Linked DNA regions of Homo sapiens: region 1 is linked to region 2. The links come from fine-mapping of genetic effects on gene expression. A gene starts in region 2. The other region holds a variant in brackets. All regions are shown on one strand. Distances are between the middles of the regions. Region 1 overlaps FLVCR2 (FLVCR choline and putative heme transporter 2). Region 2 holds the start of FLVCR2 (FLVCR choline and putative heme transporter 2).

Region 1 (2,907 bases), 36 kb after region 2:
CCCTTTACATAGTAACACTTTCTCCCAAGTTGTCTGTGCAGCTGAAGTTTTCCTCAGCTGCCCTACTCTGTGAACTTAACTTCAGATTAATCTTTAGGCCATAAAATCATTGGTAGTGTGCATAGAGGTATGTAGATATACACATTTACCTAATAACTGTATCATGTAAAACATCCTTTGGCAAGGACAGCATCATACTGAATGCTTTAAAATTGCTCATTTGGGTTGATGGGCTTACAGTAATCCAATGTGTGAAAGTCTAGATTGAACCTCAATGTATCTTTTATGAGGCTCTTATTTTAAAAGGATCCTCAACCATGCTTTTTAAAGTATCAAACTTTCTCTGAGAACCTTGTCTAGACTTAAATTTCCAACCACATCTTTCCACAGTTCTGGGCTCACATGACAAATGTGCAGTGGCAATGGTGCTTTCCTGACATGCCAGTTAACTGCAGCTCATTCTTTCAACAACCATGTATTGAGTAAGCGCCAGACTAGCAAGTATCAGGAAAATGACTGACAACCCAAAGATTAGAGGAAGTTAGAGCAAGGCAATCACGCCTAGTGAGGATCGTCAAGGAAAGCTCTGTGAGAGAATTCACATGGTGATGGGCTCTGAAAGATTAAAAAGGGGATAACTTGGGATAAAGGTATAGACGAGATGATGGGAAGGTTGGAATCATGACTTGTTCAATCTGGCTGGAATATAGGGGATTTATAGGGATACAGAAGAGAAGGGTCTGGAAAGGAAGGTTGAAACTAGCAAAGACAGCTGTATTAGTCTGTTTTCACGCTGTGATAAAGAACTGCTTGAAACTGGGTAATTTATAAAGAAAAGAGGTTTAATTGACTCACTGCTCCAAATGGCTAGGGAGGCCTCAGGAAACTTACAATCATGGTGGAAGGGGAAACAGGCACATCTTACATGGTGGTAGGCAAGAGAGCGAGAGAGAGAGCGTCTGAAGGAGGAACTGTCAAACATTTTTCTAACCATCAGGTCTTGTGAGAACTCACTACCATGAGAATACCATGGGAGAAACTGCCCCCATGATCCAGTCACCTCCCACCAGGCCCCTTCCTTGGCACATGGGGATTACAATTCGAGATGAGATTTTGGTGGGGACACAGAGCCAAACCAAATCAATGGCTAAGAACAGTAGCTGAGGGGTTTGGACCTGCTTCCTTCCTCTGAGAGGGCTGACACCTTGAAGTTCTTTAAGCAGGGACGGTGGGGTCAATGCAACGCCAAGGACCATGAATGTGAGTACATCATGCAGGTCGGGCAGAGGAGAGATCACAGTTGCCTGGGAGAAAGGCAGAAAGGTCCGAAGTGGGACAGGGCAGATTCAAAGAGGACTTTGCAGAAGGGTTTGGGAGGATCTGAGACGAAGTGCATATAAGAGGGCAGAGTCAAAGATGACTAAGATAATTGAGGAAGGACACGCAGATGGAGCCAGAGAAGGAAGTGAAGCAGAACCAGGGTAGGATGATGGTTTGTATGACTTCCCCAAATAAACCAAGTGCATCTTGGGAGTCCCAGTGGCCTCTGCTGCCTGTCACCTCTGCTGTGTGAGAGTGTGTGGGAAAGGGCCAACCCTGCAGACAGGGAGTGAGCCTCAGCCC[G/A]ATGAGCTAGGTGGTATTTTCTTCCTCTTGTGGATTAGGAAACACACAGAGAGGTCAATTAACTTGCCAAGCTCTAGTAACTGGTAGGGCCGAGATTTGAATTGAGATCTTTCTGACCCCTGACCCTGAGCCCTTAAGCACTATATTAGTATGATGATGTCTCTGAGGAATGTTGAAGCAGAAAGGAGAAGTGGGAGATTCATTTAAAAAAGCATAAGGCCGGCTGGGCGTCATGGCTCATGCCTATAATCCCAGCATTTTGGGAGGCCGAGGCGGGCGGATCACAAGGTCAGGAGATTGAGACCATCCTGGCTAACACATGAAACCCTGTCTCTACTAAAAATACAAAAAAAAAAAAAAATTAGCCAGATGTGGTGGCGGGAACCTGTAATCCCAGCTACTCGGGAAGCTGAGGCAGGAGAATGGCATGAACCCGGGAGATGGAGCTTGCAGTGAGCCGAGATCGTGCCACTGCACTCCAGCCTGGGTGACAGAGTGAGACTCCATCTCAAAAAAAAAAAAAAAAAAAAAATAGCGTAAGTCCAGTTATGGTGGCTCATACCTGTAATCTCAATATTTTGGGAAGCTGAGATGGGAAGACCACTTGAGACCAGCCTAGGCAACATAGTGAGAGACCCCAATTCCACAAAAAATTAAAAAATCAGCCAGGCATGGTGTCATGATCCTGTAGTTCCAGCTACTTGGGAGGCTGAGGCAGGAGAATTGCTTGAACCCAGGAGGCGGAGGTTGCAGTGAGCCAAGATTGCGCCACTGCACTCCAGCCTGGCGACAGAGTGAGACTCTGTCTCAAAAAAAAAAAATTTTTTTTAATTTAAAAAATAAAAATAGCATAGCATGGGCATGAGGCAAGCCCCAGATTAGGTCATAAAGGGACCAAATTTGATGGAAGCCTTCAGCCTCAGGGACTCTGGTGCAAAGAAAGCAGCTGGCTCAATAAAGGGATACATACATATATATATTTTTTAATTGATACATGGCATTTTACATGTTTATGGAGTATGGACTTTTTTGACTCAGCACTAGGAAGATAGCTCCTGAGAGCTCTGAAATCTAAGGGAACATGTCCAGCCATACCCAGTGATTATGCCCAGGGGAGAGGAATGAGCCAATTGGTTTGAGCAAATTGGGGCCCAGCCCTAGGGGTGAGGGTGGGCTTGCCTTTGTCTGAATAGCACAGCACGTTGGGAGAGGAATGAGTTTCAGTAGGTGAGAACCTGTTTGTGGAGGTTGTTGTCTCCTAACAGGAGCAGGATCCACCTTGCC
Region 2 (2,907 bases):
ATTCGCGGAATGCTTACTATGTGGCAGGAATTTTCTAAGTGCATTCGTGTATTAATTCATTCAAGTCTCAGAACAACACGGTGAGGTAGGTACTATTATTTCATCATTTCCATTTTACAGATGAAGAAACTGAAGCGCAGAGAGGTGGAGTTCCTTGGTCTACAGTGGCACCTCATTGTAGCTAAGCTGGTGTTTGAACTCAGGGAGAATTTGGGCTCCTTACCAGGATCCCTCGCCAAGGACAGAGGTCAGTGCAACGAGTCGAGGGTTTGCCCTTTGAAATGGGCTAGGACCGGCAGGTGGCAGACTAGGGCTGCTTGAGTTCAAAGACCGCTTCCAAGACCAAGCCCGGAGCCAGCTCTGTGCTAAGCGTTCCATCACACAACCGCGGACAGCTTCTTCGGCTTCTTCAAACTCTCCTTTCCCTCCCCCGCACCCTAGGGTCTTCGCCCAGAATCCATCAGGAAAAATAGCCCCACATAACAGGTTCAAATCTAACCTCCCCAAGACAAAACCACGTCCGCAGGGAAAGAAGCGAGTAAAGCGAGTTTTCTGTAACTCCCCTTTAACCCAGGAGCGCAACCAGCCCGGGAAATCTACAAATCTCTCTTTAGTTCAGCAAAGGGCTGGGAGCCTAAGCCAAGGGGGAGAAAGTTGGGGAATCCCTCTTGAATTCCCCAGAACACTTAGGTGGCGCCGGGCTTTGGTGCACGCGCGCAGGGCATGCGGACAGGCACCGGAGAGGCTCTATTTTGGGCATTACTTCGGGAAGGCGGATCTTCTTGCAGGGTCCGCTGATAGCGGGTGGCAAATGAATATGAGGGGCAGTGCAAAGGGTGGGGGTTAACCGGGCGGTTTCCATGGCGCCCGGGGCGTGGGGGAGGAATGCATCCCGCAAGCTGTGGCGAAACAACTGCTCTGCCCGGAGGACCGGGCTCGAGAAGGCAAGAGACACTGGGTCGGGGGTGGAGTGGTGGCGGGGGGGTTGGGGGCGGAAGAAGCCAGGCAGGACGGGGGCGGGGCGGTCACGTGTGCCCGACTGGGCGAGGCCCCAAGCTGGCCCGGGAGAGGACTCTGCGGGCGAAGTGGCTGCGCAAGGAGAGAACTTTTCCTGCACAAGGAACGCCTCGTGGGGAGACCCAAGGCAGGAGCGGTCCGGAGCCGGCTGCGGCGTGTGCGGCCGGCCTTGGGACAGCGATCGCCGCGGGTGGCAACAGAGAGCCCCAAGCAAAAGTGGGAGCAGGAGCTTGGAGGTGAGCACAGGAAGCCCCACTTGAGGCTTTTACGCAGCCTCTAGTCTCTGTTTCTTCTGGAATAGGCAAGTGTCCTTTCAACTCTAAGAGACCAGCAGAGGCCACTGTCCCTTAAGACTGCCGGAGTCCTCACCACTTCTCCAGGATTCCAGAGGAGACTGTGGCGATGGTGAATGAAGGTCCCAACCAGGAAGAGAGCGATGACACCCCTGTGCCGGAGTCCGCACTCCAAGCGGACCCCAGCGTCTCGGTCCATCCCAGCGTCTCGGTCCATCCCAGCGTCTCCATCAACCCCAGCGTCTCTGTCCACCCCAGCAGTTCGGCCCACCCCAGTGCCTTAGCCCAACCCAGTGGCTTGGCTCACCCCAGTAGCTCGGGCCCTGAGGACCTCAGCGTGATCAAGGTGAGCAGGCGCCGTTGGGCCGTGGTCCTGGTGTTTAGCTGCTACTCCATGTGCAACTCCTTTCAGTGGATCCAGTACGGCTCCATCAATAACATCTTCATGCACTTCTACGGTGTCAGTGCCTTTGCCATTGACTGGCTGTCCATGTGCTACATGCTGACTTACATCCCTCTGCTCCTGCCAGTGGCTTGGCTGCTGGAGAAGTTCGGCCTGCGCACCATTGCTCTCACTGGCTCGGCTCTCAACTGCCTGGGGGCCTGGGTGAAGCTGGGCAGCCTGAAGCCGCATCTCTTTCCGGTCACCGTGGTGGGCCAGCTCATCTGCTCTGTGGCCCAGGTTTTCATCCTGGGCATGCCCTCCCGCATCGCTTCCGTCTGGTTCGGGGCTAATGAGGTTTCAACAGCCTGCTCCGTGGCTGTCTTTGGCAATCAGGTAGGTAGAACAGTTTGTGAATGTTCCCAGGGGCGTGTGTTAGATTGCACCTAACTATTGGGTGTGGTAGGCTATAATTTGCTGATTGTCCAACAGTGTTTGTGACTCTGGGTGACAGTAACTGGGTGTGACAGGCAGTGATTGTGATGCTGTAAGAGAGGCGGGAAACAAAAGCAGGGGGACCTGCTCTTTCATCCACAGTTGCTCTTGCCCCAGCCAAAAGCATGCTTCTAGAACATACTATACCTTCGCTGTGTCGTTCTCGAACCTGTGTCAGTCCACCAACTTAGACCTGTAATTTCAGGAATGCTCTTCTGTCTGGCAGCAGCCCCTGGGCATCAGACTATTCTGGTGTCATCAGAACTTGGCAGTGCTTTCAGTTGGACCAACCAGCTTTCCTAGAGTGCAGTATCTCCTCTACTGCATAGAATTGCAAAGCCATGCCTGGTGGTGTTTGGCACTGCTTTTACCTTGTTTTACACACAGCTGAAGCCAGGACAGTGGGAGCAGTGCTTTGTGCCAAACTCCTTGCCTGGGATTTAGAGCCAAGTCCAGCAGGATGGAGTAGAAATCTCACTCTGAGTTTCCATGGCCTAGAAAGGGTAGTTCATGTCTTAATCTTTTTCTCTTTCTTTCTTATTGGAAGGAGAAGCTCAAATTCTTTGCATCTCAATGTGGTTATGATCCAGAAAGCTGGGCAGGTTGTGAACCTGAATGCCGTCTCCAAATACTCGAAGCAAATATTTATGGGAATATTTAAAGCAAACGTCCTTTAGCCAGACCACTGCCTCCCAGTCTCGCATCTTTCCAAGCACGTAC

The links. PIP is the estimated chance that this variant, and not a neighbour inherited with it, causes the effect.
Region 1: its variant is fine-mapped to the expression of FLVCR2 in whole blood (TOPMed, PIP above 0.99).

The regions. Positions count from the first base shown.
Region 1 is chr14:75,613,894-75,616,800 of GRCh38, forward strand. All of the region lies in intron 1 of FLVCR2 (FLVCR choline and putative heme transporter 2), which reads left to right. Among named protein-coding and RNA genes, the nearest start is that of FLVCR2-AS1, 36 kb to the left of the region's middle. The variant G/A (reference allele first, on the strand shown) is at 1,624.
Region 2 is chr14:75,577,554-75,580,460 of GRCh38, forward strand. It overlaps FLVCR2 (FLVCR choline and putative heme transporter 2), which reads left to right and starts at 1,067. Exons shown (of 10, transcript NM_017791.3): 1 at 1,067-2,088. The coding sequence starts at 1,420. FLVCR2-AS1 (FLVCR2 antisense RNA 1) reads right to left here and starts at 2,035. Exons shown (of 3, transcript NR_110552.1): 1 at 224-2,035. RefSeq lists an enhancer at 173-232 and a silencer at 943-1,012.